Linked DNA regions of Homo sapiens: region 1 is linked to region 2. A link means that fine-mapping ties the variant in region 2 to the expression of a gene that starts in the linked region. Tissue or cell type: whole blood. Region 2 holds a variant in brackets; the other region holds the start of a gene. All regions are shown on one strand. Distances are from middle to middle.

The links. PIP is the estimated chance that this variant, and not a neighbour inherited with it, causes the effect.
Region 1: ICA1 starts here. The variant in region 2 is fine-mapped to the expression of ICA1 in whole blood (TOPMed, PIP above 0.99).

Annotation. Positions count from the first base shown.
Region 1 is chr7:8,257,920-8,265,919 of GRCh38, reverse strand. ICA1 (islet cell autoantigen 1) reads left to right here and starts at 3,753. Exons shown (of 14, transcript NM_001136020.3): 1 at 3,753-3,826. ICA1-AS1 (ICA1 antisense RNA 1) reads right to left here and starts at 3,695. Exons shown (of 6, transcript NR_125740.1): 1 at 3,501-3,695; 2 at 3,094-3,340; 3 at 1,240-1,329.
Region 2 is chr7:8,127,374-8,135,373 of GRCh38, reverse strand. ICA1 (islet cell autoantigen 1) reads left to right here. Exons shown (of 14, transcript NM_001136020.3): 13 at 7,232-7,501. Among named protein-coding and RNA genes, the nearest start is that of ICA1, 130 kb to the left of the region's middle. RefSeq lists an enhancer at 821-950 and a silencer at 1,661-1,710. The variant G/A (reference allele first, on the strand shown) is at 3,432.

The DNA of each region.
Region 1 (8,000 bases), 130 kb before region 2:
GCAAAACCCTGTCTCTACTAAAAATACAAAAATTAGCTGCGCATGGTGGCACATGCCTGTAGTCCCAGCTACTCAGGAGATTGAGGCAGGAGAATCCCTTGAACCCAGGAGATGGGGGCTGCAGTGAGCTGAGATCGTGCCACTGCACTCCAGTCTATGCAACAGAGTGTGACTCTGTCTCAAAAAAAAAAAAAAAAAAACCAACCAAACAAAAAATACCAAACTTAGCTGGGCATGGTGGTGCATGCCTGTAATCCCAGTTACTCAGGAGGCTGAGGCGGGAGAATCACTTGAACCCGGGAGGCGAAGGTTGCAGTGAGCCGAGATTGTGCCACTGCACTCCATGCTGCAGGACAGAGCAAGACTCTGTCTCAAAAAAAAAGAAAAAAGAAAAAAGAAAAAAAGAAGATAAAGAAACTCTATACTCTTTAGATCTCACTCCCTATTCACCCATACTCTCTCCAGCCCTAAATGATCACTATTGTACTTTCTGCCTGTACAGATTTCTCTATTTTGGACTTTCATATGAATGGAATAATATATTTGTGACTGGCTTCCTTCACTCAGCATAATGTTTCAAGTTTTGTCTAAGTTGTAGCATATGTCAGTATTTCATTCATTTGCATGGCTGAATATTCCATTACATGAATATACTACATTTTGTTTATTCATTTGTCTACAGCAGGACAGCTTTGACCTTTTGACTGTTTTGAATAATGCTGCTATAGACATTTGTGTACAAGTTTTTGTGTAGACATAGGTTTTTATTTCTCTTGGATATAGACCTAGGAGTGGAATTGTTGGGTCACATGGTAGCTCTATGTTTAATCGTTTAAGGAACTTTCAGACTGTTTTCCAAAGTGGTTGCACCATTTTACTTTCCCACCAGCAGTTTCCACCACCAATTTACATCCTCGCCTGGGTTTACCTTTGGGCAATCTTGCTTTGCCTAGGATGGCAGAATAGAATGACAGAAGGGCAACAGCCCAGTGACACAGTGGAGATCGCACCAGCCCTAGACTGCCTACCTTCCAATTTAAGTGAGAAAAAATAAAGCCCTATTTCATTTAATCCACCGCTATTCCAAGTCTCTGTTAGTAGCTTAACACAAATCCAACTCTTGTGGTCCTATTAGCATATCTTGAATCTGGGAAGCTCTTGAAAAAATTATTGAATTGAATATGTAAAGATTTTTTTCATAGAAAATTTTGTCATCCTGTTGTACACTGGAAAACGCACCTTATTTCTCTCCTAATTTCTGATCCCATCATTCAATAGCCATTCTCCTTAGAAACTGTTTCGGGTTCTCACTAGCACCTTACTGGTGTTCTGCAAGATGGAAACAACAGCTGGTTATTCAGAAACAAATGCAAGTGTTATTGATGGAGCCATTTTATTTAAGGGGAAGGAAAAGTACTCATTGTGGTGATGGAGAATGAGCAGGAGTTGTCTATTATTTCCTTTCTCAAATATTATGCTAAGTGTTAGGACAATAATTAGAATGAAGAAAAATCAGTTAAGGTTTTCTCCTAAACTCTCCGGGAGCCCAAAGAATTTCAGTGCCATGTTGACTACATAATGCTTGTATCATGTATTTGTTCTCTTTTAGACATTGCTTTTGAAGCCACTTTTAGCCTCTGTAACAGGTTAGACTCACAGTCATCGTTTTCACCTTGGAATTCAGAAAGCATAAAAGAAAACTGCGTAATCAGTTGCAGCTCAGCTGTCCCCGTTTTTTCCCTTCATGCTTTTGTTCCAATCATCTGCATTTTGAGGGGATACTTTGAACACACACACAACCTCCCATTCTACTGGCTGTTTTGTAACAGATTTAAATATTTGCCCCAAAGCCAGCCTTTGACCAATGGGGCTTCTGATTAAGTTTTCATGTAACTGGTAGAAAGGAGAACATTACAGAGTCAGGAAAAACTTTTCAGGTGATTTAGTCCTTTCTCAATGCTTCAATTAACTGATGATAACGCTCAGTCAACATTTATCGGGCACCTATGATGTTCATTACGGCACTTCATTCTGTTAAAGAATAATAATCTCTTTATCCTTTTAACTCCCGATAATAGCTTTTTACACATAAATTTACAGTTCTTGGAATCAATGTATCTTAACATATCTTAATCATCTTTCTTTTGTAAGGAAGACTTTCTCATTTTAAAGGCTTTGGGTTTTTTTTCTTACAGCAAAATCATTTGGCTTGCGTTGTTAACACGTTAGTTTGAATTTTTTTTTATAAAAGCCAAATATATATAAGCAATGCTTTTCTCTCTGAAAATTTCTCCTGAATCTTAGCTTTTCAACAATTTGCTATTTTGTAGACCATATTCATGATTTGTTTACTCATACACACTTACTAAGGAGATGTTTACTCAGCTCCAAAATTCGTGTTAAGACTAGGACAGGCTCAAATCTATGACAAACAGAATCCCCAAAGAATAACTTTAAAGGTTATGTAAATTTCTGGAGGTATCTTATTATCTTTCTATTAAAATGTCAACATATTCTATACTTTTTCTCCATCCATTCTGGCAAGACACCATGCTATCTTGAGATTAAGCTAAGTCTCCTGGTTCAGATTCAAATCCCTGCTCAATAATCTCTTTATGGCACTCTGGGCAGTGTCTTCATCTGTGAAATCGGGATAATGATTTTATCTACAGTATTGGGTTGCTGTAAGGATTAAATATAAAGCATACAGCATGTGCCGGACATAGAGCTAGCACTCCATCCATGTTAGCGCAGGATTTCTGATTCGTCAGCATCATTACTCAATAACTATCATTCGGCCCTTTTAAATTGTTTCAGCGACGACTGAATGAACTTATTTATAAATGTATAACATAACTAGGGATGAAGTCATACTACATTGAGGTTTCATTTCCACATAGATAATATTAGGAAGCAGCTATGCCAACACTTTTTCTTCCTGTGATCTGTATACTGCAGGGTCTCTAGAAACAATGGTTTGGTTCTTTCCTGGTGACAAAGGATAAGAGAAGATGAAACTGCTACAAATGGCAATAACTTAAAAATAAAAGATACAGAAATATATGGAAATGAAAAACATATACCTATACATACACAGCTGTTTTTAAAACATGACCTTTATTCTCGAAGCTCAAACTTGATTTCCAGGTACAGCAGGCCTCTGTAACTTTTCTTGGCAGTGAAGTCATGAAGTCTCCTGTCCTCTAAAGCTACAGAAATTTAACCTGGAAGCAAGCAGTAGGCACTACGCACAGCACAGAGGGAACCCTGGGGTGTACGCTGTGGCTCCCACCTGTCCGCCAGGTCATTGTGACGCAAACGCTATGGCCACGTGGAACACCTGCCGGAGAGCAGGGGCGGGGTCACTCTGGGCGGCGGATCCGAGCGGGGGATACCCCAGGAGATGGGGGTCGAGGAGAGACCCCGGGGAGTAGAGAGAGAGAAACTCACTCCCCGAGTCCCCGACCCTCCCCAAGCAAGGTGAGGTCAACGCCACCCACCTTCCCCCGGTCACCCTGGGAGGGGTCGCTCCGGCGGGCGTCTGCTGGAGGGTAGAAGCGGGGAAGGGAGGCAGCGGCGGCGCCCAGGCGGCGGTAGGTAGCCGGGCGGCGAGGGCGCCCGCACCCCCCGGCCGCTGCGCTGCGCTGCGGTGCGCACGGGCTCCGCCGGTTGCTATTCCGGCTGGTGGCGGCCGCCGCAGGAAGGGCCGGTTCCTGCGCTCCCCCCGCCCCTTTCCCTCGCCTTCGGCTGACGCTGACGTCGGATGAGTGATCCGGAGGGACGCTCCGACCGCGGCCGGGAGGCTCCTGGGGGCCGGGGCTCCGAGGTACCTGCCCTCCGGGGTCGGGGCGGGGGCGCGCCGGGCGGGCTGCAGGAAGCAGCAGGAGACGCCCGGCAGCCGGGACGGTCGGGGACGCCTGGTAGGAGCTGCCTTCTCTGCCCTCCGCGGGCGGCGCGTGATAGGCGAGTCGCCTCCTCGGGTCCCGGATCCCGGTGCGGGAACCGCATCAGCCCCTTCCCCTCCCCTCCTCCCTCCGGCCTGGGAAGGTCTGGAGGATGCGCGCGCCGTGAGAGCGTGCGTCAGCCCCGGGGGAGCGGTAGGGAAGCGTTCCGCGCTCCGGCCCCAGCGCTGGGAGCACCGGCACCCATGCCAGCCCACCCCACCCACCCACCGCGCGCCTCGCCTTCCCGGCGGCTCCGGCCCCAGGACCCCGAGCTCCCTGGTGGGCAGGGACTTGCGTCCAGGGTTGACTTGTTGACAAGTTCACCTGCCGCGGCGCCTGGTGTGTGCTTTTTCTCTTCCCCTCCGTGGCCCTTTTTTTGGCAGGGGCGGCAGAGAGCATATGGGTACCTCTTTATAACCACTAGTGCCAGGAGGCCTGAGCTTGGTCCCCCGGGGGCGAGGTGCTCAGCAGTCTCGGACTAGACGGGGCGAGAACCCCTAAGCAACCCCGGTTCCAGCAAACCCTGGCGCGCCCGTTTCCTTTGGGCGCTGCTGACTCCGCCTTTCCTGCTCCGGGGCTATTGCAGCTCCTGCTTCCTCTAGAAACGAACATATCCTGTTGTTATGTCTGCCTTTCCCCCAAAGCGGCTCTCCAGGAACCTTTCCCACTGTCTTTTTACTTGTAGTACCCCCAAAGCACCTGAGCTTCTCTTTGGGGTCTTAAAAGTATCGCGCCCTTATTCTGGCGAAGGGCATTAACTGCCTGGTTGGGGAGAGTTAGTTTGGAAAGAATCGCGTTCTCTTCATTTAGATGGCATTAAAAAATTAGCGCAAGAAAGGGTTTTGTTCATGAATCTTAGTAACCGAGATCTGGTAACGGTATAAAAATTATCAAGGCCTGGAAAATATGTCACCAGCTTGCTTGGGAGTGATACTGAATGTAGGAAGAAAGACACATAAGGCATTTATTGGCCATTAAGGTCCTATAAAATATGACTCATCGCAAACATGTTTTTGTCCATACGTTTCAGTGAAGTCTCTTCGGAAAATCTCAAATTGGTTTCTGTGGCCCTCTGGTTTGAATCTGAGATCTGAACTGTTCTGTGGTTAGGGAGTGAAATAAGAAATGCTTAGTTTGAAATCTAGGCTCCCGATGCAATTTCATACCCCCTGTTTAAAACACACACTCTCTAAAAATGCTTTTAAGTAAGTTTTCAAACCAAAGATATATTTTTAGATTTCAGTCTTTATTTTTGAAACACCCTTTGTAGAGAATACCACAGGGACAAAATCAATTTATAATCCTGAATAGCTCAAATATCACTCTTTGGTTTTATACTAATACTGTACATACATCTTAATTGCAGGAGATGTTGCTTTCTAATTGTTTCTGTTTGTATTACAAAGGGAAATAATTGTACTGTTTATAAAGATGAATCTTTAGAAAACGTAACAGTTAAGCTACAGCGGGCTATTTGTGGAGAGACCTGATGTTAAAAAACGTTAACCCTGTATCCTCCACCCGTGGATCATTGAGTGCTAAAGATACTGGATGGTAATTGCCTGGGTGGTTTATTTTGTAACTATTTTCCCCCATTTGGAACACCTGAGTAACTATCTGACTGCTTTCTCTACGCATCTTTACCGCAGTGCATAAAGATCAATCTCACGAAAAGTATAGAAAATTTTGTTACTCAGAGCCTTCAAAATCAGTACGTTTTCAAGGTATTTGACTAAATAGTACATTTTTTTCAGGTGCAAGCAGCATTAGCGGTATGGAGGTCTGGTAGTTATGCCATAACGTAGAAGGATAAACCTATGTTTGGTATGAACTTTTAAGATTATAGAAACCTCATGCGAGAGAGGGAGGAAGTTAACAGGCCCCAAGTGTCAGGATGAATTTTTCCTCTTCGTTGGTTGAGCCTGAGGGTAGGTGGCAGTGTTTATAATCAGCACGCTGGTCACTAGTGTCCTTTTTTTCCATCTGCATTACTAGATTTATGGGAACCATTAATAAGGATGCTATCTGCATGTTTTGTCCATGAGGCAACATAGATCACTAATGAATCTTATCCCCCAACCCCACCACCATTCGCAATCTGCCTCAGCAGAACTTTAAACTCAAAAAACACTTTTCCCCCGCTTTTTTCTTGATTCCCAAGCTGATACATTTCGTATCACAATCATATCTAACACTCTGAGGGAGTATGGAGGACTCATGGGCTTTGGATCCTGATGGAGCAAAATCAGAATCCCTGCGGTAACACCTAACTAGCCGTGTGACCTTGACCAAGTTACTTAAGTCACCATTTCCTTATCTACAGAACAGGAATATCCACCTTTTTAGGGGCAGGGTGGAGATTAGAGATAATGTATATAAAATGCTTTGCACGCTTTTAAATAGGACTCACTCAGTAGTAATAAATTATTTTTTCACATGCTAAACATATGCTATCCGTATCTAAAAAGAATGCTGCTGCTTTGCCTGTGATAGGAAGTGTATTTCAATTTGGTTTTGAGTAGTTCAAATAATTTTGTACCAATACTAAGACCCTGGGCTTTATGGAAAACACTCTCTGAAGTTGGGGGGTGCAACCAGAAACAAAACAAATCTAATTTGTTCCAGTGGGGATAGATCTTCCAAGCCCCTGTCACTCAAACGTGGTCCATGGACCAGTAGCATGTGGCCTCCCCTGGGAGCTTATTAGAAATGCAAAATCTTAGCGTGCCTGCTACTCTCTTCCAGACCCAGTGAATTCAAATCTCCATTTTAACAAGATCTCCATGAGTATGTTAACATTTGAGAAGCAATGCTGTAACCTGTTATTTCTCAAACTTTAGTGTCCCAGAGAATCATTTGGGGGCTTGTTAAAATAAGTGTGGATTCCCGGTCAAGCTTCCTTCATCTGCTGTTAAGCAACATCTCAGGTAGCTCTGATCCCTAGGGTCTCCCACAGACTGTCCAGCACACTACTCTAAAATGAGCCTCTGTCCTCTTCCTTCACAAAGCACTTTGGCAACTATGATCTTATGTGATACTCAACCCCCTTTGAGATAAGTAGATATTATAATCTCCATCTGTCTGATAAGGACTGCAGGCATGATTTGCCCTGGATAGATGCATATGGTAGAACTGCCTTGGAGCCTCTAAAAATCCTGGCTGACCACACTTTCACTATTCTAGCAATTTACTATTTAGTATTATAGCATCAAATTAACATAGTTTTTGTTTTTTGACCTGTAAGTAATTTTCACAAATAACTAATGAATCTCTCCAGGACAGGGAAGACTACATGTGATAGGGCATTTTATACCTGTTTTTATAACAAAGCCTGCCTACTATGTGACTGTAGGCCAGTTGCTTAAGATAACTGAACTTAAACTTCTTCGTGAAATGAATATAAATCATTATGTCAACTTGGCCGTATTGCGAGGATACTCCGTGATGTGGGTGAAGCATACACCCCAGTGTCTGAGAAGTGGCAGTTCCTCAATTAGTGGTAACTCCTTGTCCCAGTGTAAACCTAGTGAGCTAGAATGAGTTCATGAAAAGGTGGGGAAATGATGGCCTGCATCACTCATGATGGGAATCATCTGTCTCTCTTGCTAAGTCAGATGACATCATCCATCAGGCCTTTGACCAAATCAGAGAAGTGGGATGACTTAGTATTGAACAAGCATTGGTTGTATATGTGCCATGAGCTACACACTGTGCTAAACACTCAGAATCCCAAGACTCAGACCCCACCATGCTCTGGAGGAGCGTACAGCTGAGTAAAAGAGGGAAAGAGAGGAGTCAACTAACCAATTGCCTTTCAGGGAAAGCAAGAAGGAGATAGAGACACAGGTGGTAATGCAGCCCAGGGCGGGGGCATCCCACCCCAACAGGAGAAAGGGCAGAGAAACCCTGAGATGCTTCATGGAGGAGATTGCCCTTGAGTTGAGCCTGAAACAACCAGTAGGAATTCAGCAGGTAAATAAGGGTTGGGAGTGGGGAGAAAGAGCGTTCCCCACTCCCAACCATGTGTATGTGTGTACAAAAGTCAACAAGTAAGGG
Region 2 (8,000 bases):
AGTGCTCTCTATAGATTTACCCTTATAAAGATTTCTATAAAGATTCTGGCCGGGCGCGGTGGCTCACACTTGTAATCCCAGCACTTTGGGAGGACAAGATGGGCGGATCACTTGAGGTCAAGAGTTCGAGACCAGCCTTGCCAACATAATGAAACCCTGTCTCTACTAAAAATCCAAAAATTAGCCAGGCCTGGTGATGGGCATCTGTAATCCCAGCTACTCTGGAGGCTGAGGCAGAAGAATCGCTTGAACCCGGGAGGCGGAGGTTGCAGTGAACCGAGATTGCACCACTGCACTCCAGTCTAGGCAACAGAGTAACACTCTGTCTCAAAAAAAAATAAAAAAAATTCTATAAAGAGTCTATAAATATTTATCCCTGCCCTAGGTTTTATGTTTTTCAGTAAGATTACTTGTCTTCTAACATCTACTGGTGAAATGGAGTAGCAAGCTTAGGGATCATGAACAAGAATTTTTTTTTTTTAGTGCCTACTCAGGGTCCAGTGCTGTTGGTTTGTTGTTTGTTTTTTGTTTTGTTTTGTTTTTCAGGGAGTAGGAGTTGTTTTTCCTCTCTCTGTTCTTATTATAATCTATATCATTTTTCATCAGAGCGAAGTTCTTAGAAGCAGTGTTCTTGAGTTCCAAACAAGTACAGTTTGTTATAATATAGAATATGTTTTTCTTGTTAGCCATTTTCGTAAGGTGTTTTCCTCCCTATCTTCCCCCTACTCTCTTTGGGCGATGTGAGGATAGTGTTGGTGTTTGGGGTTTTTCATCTGTACTGCAAGCGTGTGGCCTTTACGATTAGTCATAATGTCCAGAGTGGGGACGAGGGAGAAAACCAGAGAGATGGAGTCTTCCTGTTTCACACGCAGATGAAGGTAAATTAAGTGACATTTATCTGCCAGCTTTTCTGTGCTCTCGTTTTCGGTCTATGTAGTTATGTTTCCTTCCATCTTCTGTGTTCTAATTTATGCTGAGGTCATGAAACTCAGTATGAGTTCAAAAATACCACCTGAGTGAGCTGTCACCAATTTCCCACACCGTGTCTAAACTTAAAAGAGCTTCCTCTCTATGTGAGTTTTCACACAGATATTGCTCATTGGTTCAGGATCAGTTCTCCTAGGGAATGTTCTCCCAGGGGCATAGGGTTTTTATTTTTGAAAACTTGGGCAGTACAGGGCAAACATGCTGAATGGATCTGTCATCTCAGCCTTTCTGCCACGGTGCCTGCATGGTGCCTGGCTGCCAGTGGAGCCATCTGACCTTAGAAACCCTCAACACTTTACAAAAGCTTAAATATTAATTTATACATGAGATCCTTAATAGGTTCTGAAGTAAAAGCAGAGTGCTACAGTGAGAAAACACCTTGACTGTGAGTTGGGGTCCCTAGCAAGATTGTCTGTAACTAATAAATTTTGTGTCATTGGGTAGGTTATTTAACCTGGGTCTTTTTCCTTATCTGTAAAGTGAGTTAGAGGAGATGATCTCTAAGATTCCTATTGGTTGCAAAAAAAAAAAAAAAAAAAAGTATGATTTTTCTCACTGGGACAAATCATCAGGTTCCCAGAATATGTTTGAGCAATGGCAAGTAGAGAAGTTTTGCCAAATTGAATGAAGGCTTTCCAGATGGCTATATTGATGGGTAGCTGAAAGGGCTGCATTCGTGCTTGACTGCAGACATCCTGAATACCACTAGACAGAGTGTTACTTTAGCCAGTAGTCAGGGAGCCACTGAAGGCCTTTGAGTAAATGAGTAATCTCACAGCCAGCCTGTCTAACTTTGCTTTCTGTTGCTTATAAAACAGAATACTGGCACCTGGATAATTTATAAGGAAAAGGGCTCATGCCTGTAATCCTAGCACTTTGGGAGATCAAGGCAGGAGGATCACTTGAGACCAAGAGGGCAACAAAGTAAAACCCTATCTCTACAAAAGTTTTAAAAGTTAGCCAGGCATGGTGGCATGTGCCTGTAGTCCCAGCTACTCAGAAGGCATTCAAGCCTGGAGTGCTATGGTTGCACCACTGCACTCCAGCCTGGATGACAGAGTGAGACTCTATAAAGAAAAAACAAGAAAAGAAAAGAAAGAAATGGAATTTATTTCTTAGAGTTATAGGGGCTAAAATGTCCAATTCTGAGGGGACACATCTGGTGAGGGCCTTTTTTGCTGAGTCCTAAGGCGGCTTAGGGCATCACATAGTGAGGGGGCCGAATGTGCTCCCTCAGGTCTCTGTTCCTCTTCTTATAGAAGCTACCAATCCCACTCCCATGATAATCCATTAATTCATTAATCCATGAATGGGTTAACCCATTTGTGAGGGCAGAGCCCTCATGACCCAATCACCTCTTAAAGGCCGCACCTCTCAAGCTGCCGCACTAGGGTTTAAATATCAGCATGAGTTTTGGAAGGGACAGATATGCAAACCATAACACAGACTAAGCAAAGATACACAGTAAGAGGGTTCCTCTATGGAGCACCAGCAGCTTCACCAATGGGCAAACCCAGAAGGGCTCCCAGACAGGAATTTGCAAATGGAGTTCCAGAAAGAACTTGGAATTGGAGGTAGAGATTGGAGAACCTTCTGAGGTGACATTGGAACCCTAAGAATAGAAAAGATCTTCTATAGAGAATGTAGGGAAGGTATGATGGTTTGGGATGAAACCTTAAGGGCAGCCAGAATAGGAGGAGGCAGTGGAGAAGGTACTGTCAGGGAGATGGGAGGTCATCCGAGAGAGCCGCCTCATGGGGACTCCCAGGAGATAGCAGCATTTCCAGGCTGGGCAGTGGTACAAATGATGCTGTACAGGTAAAGGCCTGGGAAAAGAGCCTCAGAACTGGCAATGAGGATCTCACTGCTGACCTTCAAGAGAGCTATTTCAGTATAGGGTGGGGGCAGGAACTTAATTACAGGCAGCTGAGAAAAGAGTAGAGCCAAAGTAGAGTATGTGGTTGTGGAAGGAAGAAGAAACCAGAACAGTAACTTGAAAGTGTGAGGGGAGGGTGGAGAGCAACATCAAGTGAAGGCTGATTATTGTTGAGATAGGCACACATCTCCTGCGGCTAGGGGAAGGAAGCATTGGAAAATGAAAGACTAAAGGTGCTGGATCTGAATAATGGTGGGAACAGAGCAGGCTTCAGGAAGGAGGGGAGGGCATAGAGAGGGCTTATCTTAGAAAGGAGAGGCAATGCCTGCAAGGTCACGGAGTTGGAGACAGGTGAGGATGTGAGTACGTCATGTCTGTTGGCTCTTATTTTTGCAGCAGTGTCTGTAGTTAGGTTATCTGGTAAGCAAGTAAACACAGAGACTTGGGAGCCTGCAAGAGAGTGAAGGGAACTTGGTGTAGCATCTGTGGGTTTGGCACCTGAGAGATCCTCAACCCTTGTTCATCCTTTAACACAAAAGCAGGATTGGGGCACCATAACCCAGAAGCA[G/A]TCCACATCTGCATGGGTGGAAGCCCTGACTCCAGTTGGGAGTTTCTTACTAGAGTTTCTCCCAAAGAGCTTATCACATCTCTGCATGTGTCTCCATTATCTCTCAGTTGAGTTGAATTTTTTTCAAAGAAAATGATAGCATGATTCTCAAGAGCCAACTGACTATAGAGCTATTTCTCAAGTCTCAACTTGTCTGGTTACAGACCTGAACCCGTCCTTTTCTACTTGTAGTTAGATTTTTCTTACGTGTTATGTGTAATAATTTTAAGCATCTTAATTATCAGTGCAATAATTGGGAGGTTTTTGTGTTTTATGGTTCAAGTCAGTGCCAGTTTCATTGCTTTTAGCTAAGTAGTAAGTTCTCTTAAAAGAGAAAATGTGCACTGTGTGGCCTGTTAGCTGTTGAATAATCAAGAAGCCAAATAAAAGGCTAAATTCATTGGTAGACCTCAGTGTAGGCAAAATCTGTATTTAGAACTGGCTGTAGGCAATATCCTCACCAAGGGTCCTTTTCTCTTTTCTGTCACTAAAAAGTTTGAGTTGAATAGGATATGTATTAGTAAAAAGTTTTCTGATTGCAAGTGATAGAAAAACCCTATTTGAAATAGTTTAGGTTTAAATTTTTAAAAGCAAAAAAGAATGTATTGATCCATGTAATGGGGACACTCAGTTGTGGATTGGCTTCAAGCAAGGCTGGATCCAGGCGCTTAGACAATGTTGTCAGGATTCTCTCTCCACTTCTTGAGGCTGTTTCCCTCTATGTGTTGACTTCATTATCACTGGGAGCCTGAAATTTGCATCTTTAGAGCTTGGAATCCCAAAGAAAGAGAGGCCCTCTTCCATTAAGTTTCTATATACCAAATTCCGGGAGGTGTCCGGCATGTGTCCACCCCTGAGCCAATCACCATGCCTGGGGGATGGAGGACTCTGGCCAGCCTCATCAGTCATTCACTGGGGTGGAGGGTAAGGAGTCATTTCCAGAGGCATCTCACCAGGATCACATGGAGAAGGCATTTTCCCAAAGGGAAAACTGAAGAAGCAGAGGGAAGGGATGCTGAGTTAGCAAAAACCACCAAAGTCCATTATAAACACCATAGCACAAAACCTAAACAATAAAAACAAAGATGGAGCTATTACAGTCTGTGGTTATTTTTAGAAGGCTTACAGTTTATTATTTGTTCTTGCTAATGTTAATGATGATCTTCCCTGGACAGACATCTGTACTAAAGTAGTGAAGCCTCCCTGAGGGTTTGACTTAGTGGAGGGCTGTATAAAGCGACTGTAGAAGGAACATACGTCATTTCCAAGGTGCATTTGAAATTATCTGCTCCTCCAGGGTCTACACATTGACTTGACTTGGTTTCAATAGAATAGGTTTGGTTCAGTAATTATCTGGTTTCAGTCAGGGCAAAAAGTAAACTATAAGAAAGGGTTTGGGCATTCCAGTCCTACCTGAAAGTAGGAAGTATAGAGTTCTGTAATGTTAATAATCCTTAAAAAGGTGATGCTGGAGAGGGGAGCATGCGTAGATACAGGTGTTGATGGACACATCCTGAGCTGCGAAGGTTGCTTTCCTTTCCTTCAGCTCCTGCCTTCATCCACAGAGGTGGGCCACCTGCCTGACCTTACAGTCCTGCCTCGCCCACCATGTGCAGGCTCAAGTGGTTCCTGAACTACCCTGTTAATATCACACTGTCGAAATACCATTCGACCCAGCCATCCCATTACTGGGTATAGACCCAAAGGATTATAAATCATGCTGCTATAAAGACACATGCCCACGTATGTTTATTGCGGCACTAGCAGCAAAGACTTGGAACCAACCCAAATGTCCAACAATGATAGACTGGATTAAGAAAATGTGGCACATATACACCATGGAATACTATGCAGCCATAAAAAAGGATGAGTTCATGTCCTTTGTAGGGACATGGATGAAGCTGGAAACCATCATTCTCAGCAAACTATCGCCAAGGACAAAAAACCAAATACCGCATATTCTATCTCGTAGGTGGGAATTGAACAATGAGAACACATGGACACAGGAAGGGGAACATCACACACCGGGGACTGTTGTGGGGTGGGGGGAGGGGGGAGGGATACCATTAGGAGATATACCTAATGTTAAATGACGAGTTAATGGGTGCAACACACCAGCATGGCACATGTATACATATGTAACAAACCTGCACGTTGTGCACATTTACCCTAAAACTTAAAGTATAATAATAATAATTTTAAAAAAAATCACACTGTCTCAGAAGCCTGTTTAAAATGCCATTTGCCCCATCTTCTCACCCACAACACCTACAGGCTAGCTCTTAGTGAGAATTTCTGTGATAACACAAACAATAAGAATGCTTACATTAGACAGTTGTCCGACTAAAGTGATGTTTTGCCACTATTTTTAAACCACAGGGACATGAGAGTGACTAGATTCTTCCCCTCCCTGATTTATAGCCTGTCTGCTCAGCACATCAGAAATCCCCTTCATCTTTAGATCTTTATGTAAAGTGTGATTGAAAATAGATCCAGTAAAGCCAACACAGAGAACTTTTTTTTTTTTAAAAAAAAAGCCTTTACTTACTAATTATCTTATACATTTGAAGAAAACCTGGTCATCTCATTTAATATGACCATATCAGAATTGCAGCATGTCTCAGAAAAAAAACATAAATCATGATTTTTTTCTTCTCTTTGTGAATTAACAACAAAAATGTTTATAGTTTCCAAGTGGCAGTTAGATACCACCACAAAGCCACAGTTGATAACACCATCAGTCTTTGGTTCTCAAAATAAGTAATAAACCCAGTGAAAGGACTTGGTGTAAGATTTCTGATAGTAATGCTACTTGTATTCAATATTCAGTATTCTGCCAATGTTCGTAATGTAAGGATGGCTGCCTTCTTTAAAGCCTTCCTTCTGGAAAGGCAATTAGGTTTAAAGTGTATTTCTTTTGGTCTTCCTGACAACACCGAGGTGGCCGTTATTAACATGATAACCTTGTGGATGAGCAAACAGAGGCTCAAGGGGGTCTAAGGGTTTTTACCGAAGTCACATAGCAGCGAAGGGGTGGACCTGAGGCTTCCCCTCTGATCCGGTGCTCACTTCAACGCCCCTCGAACTGTGTCTCTAGCCTGTGAAGCTCCCTGACTCGCAGCCTCTTTCCCTTTTATTTTATTGCTGCAAAAGGCACTTAGGCAAACCAGACCCACTTTTCCTTTGCTTCATGCAATGGAGTTTCAGCAAAGTGGGAAGGAAGTAAGGATGCCTCTCTTGGGCATTGTTGAGCTCTGGACATCCTCCCCTTCACTGTCGTGCCCTGGGCCAGGGCATGGTGAAAGTTCTCTCCCCATCCTGGGTGGCAGGACAGGCTGCCACATGGCGTGTTGCTGTTCCAGCCCAGGCAATGTGTATTGAGGGCTTGCGTGGGAAGATTTGGGAAGCTATGCAAACAAGGAACTAAGATCTCCAACATGTTTTCAATCTTGGCCTTGTTTCATATCTGAGAAATGTTTTGGTAAATTTGTTTTTATATTAAAGAAAAACCAAAATCCTAGAGTCTGATGCCCAGAAACTGAACTTGCTTTGGAGGACAGGGGACAAGGGAACATGGGATTCGAAATTTAATTCTATAAACTCTTAAGAGAGGCTATAATAATAGGATGAACTTATATTTTGATGACATTTTTCTTAAATCTAGCCATCAACCAGTCTCCCCCTTCGCAGCCCCCACAGCATTGATTCCTGAGGGCTTGAGCCCTCCGTGGTGACGTTTTGTTCTCTGTTACTTCAATCAGCTTGCCTGGGACCAGTGGCAGGGACCCCGGAACCTGAAGGTGCTGACAAAGATGACCTGCTGCTGTTGAGTGAGATCTTCAATGCTTCCTCCTTGGAAGAGGGCGAGTTCAGCAAAGAGTGGGCCGCTGTGTTTGGAGACGGCCAAGTGAAGGAGCCAGTGCCCACTATGGCCCTGGGAGAGCCAGACCCCAAGGCCCAGACAGGCTCAGGTTTCCTTCCTTCGCAGCTTTTAGACCAAAATATGAAAGACTTACAGGCCTCGCTACAAGGTAGGTAAGGTGGGGATTGAAATGGGGTTTTTTGTTTGTTCATTCTTTTTGTTTTCAATCCAAAAGCATATTTCTTCCTTCTTTGTCTTTTTTAATGTTTTCTCTATTTTTATTGACTTTTTAACTGGAGACTCAGAATCACATTCCAACTTTATGTTTCAGGGTTTAAAATACATTCCTTTTCATAATTCTCCCCTGTGTTAGCATCAAAGGTTAGATGAGTGGTTCTAAATCATATTGTCATCCTTTGATTTTAGACTTCTTGTGGCATACTTGAGAGGATCAAACTGCTTTCATGGTCAAGGCCCCGTTGACTTGGCCACTCCGCCCTGAGTTCACCACGTTCCCATAAGCATGCCCTCTTCCTGGGTGCTGACTGACATTGCACGGGGCTTCTTCACTCTTTTTGCACACTAAGTTTTATCTTGCATTTCTGCTCCCTTTCTATCCTGATCCACCTCTCCCCTGAGGACCCCCCACTAGATCCACTCTTCTGGTT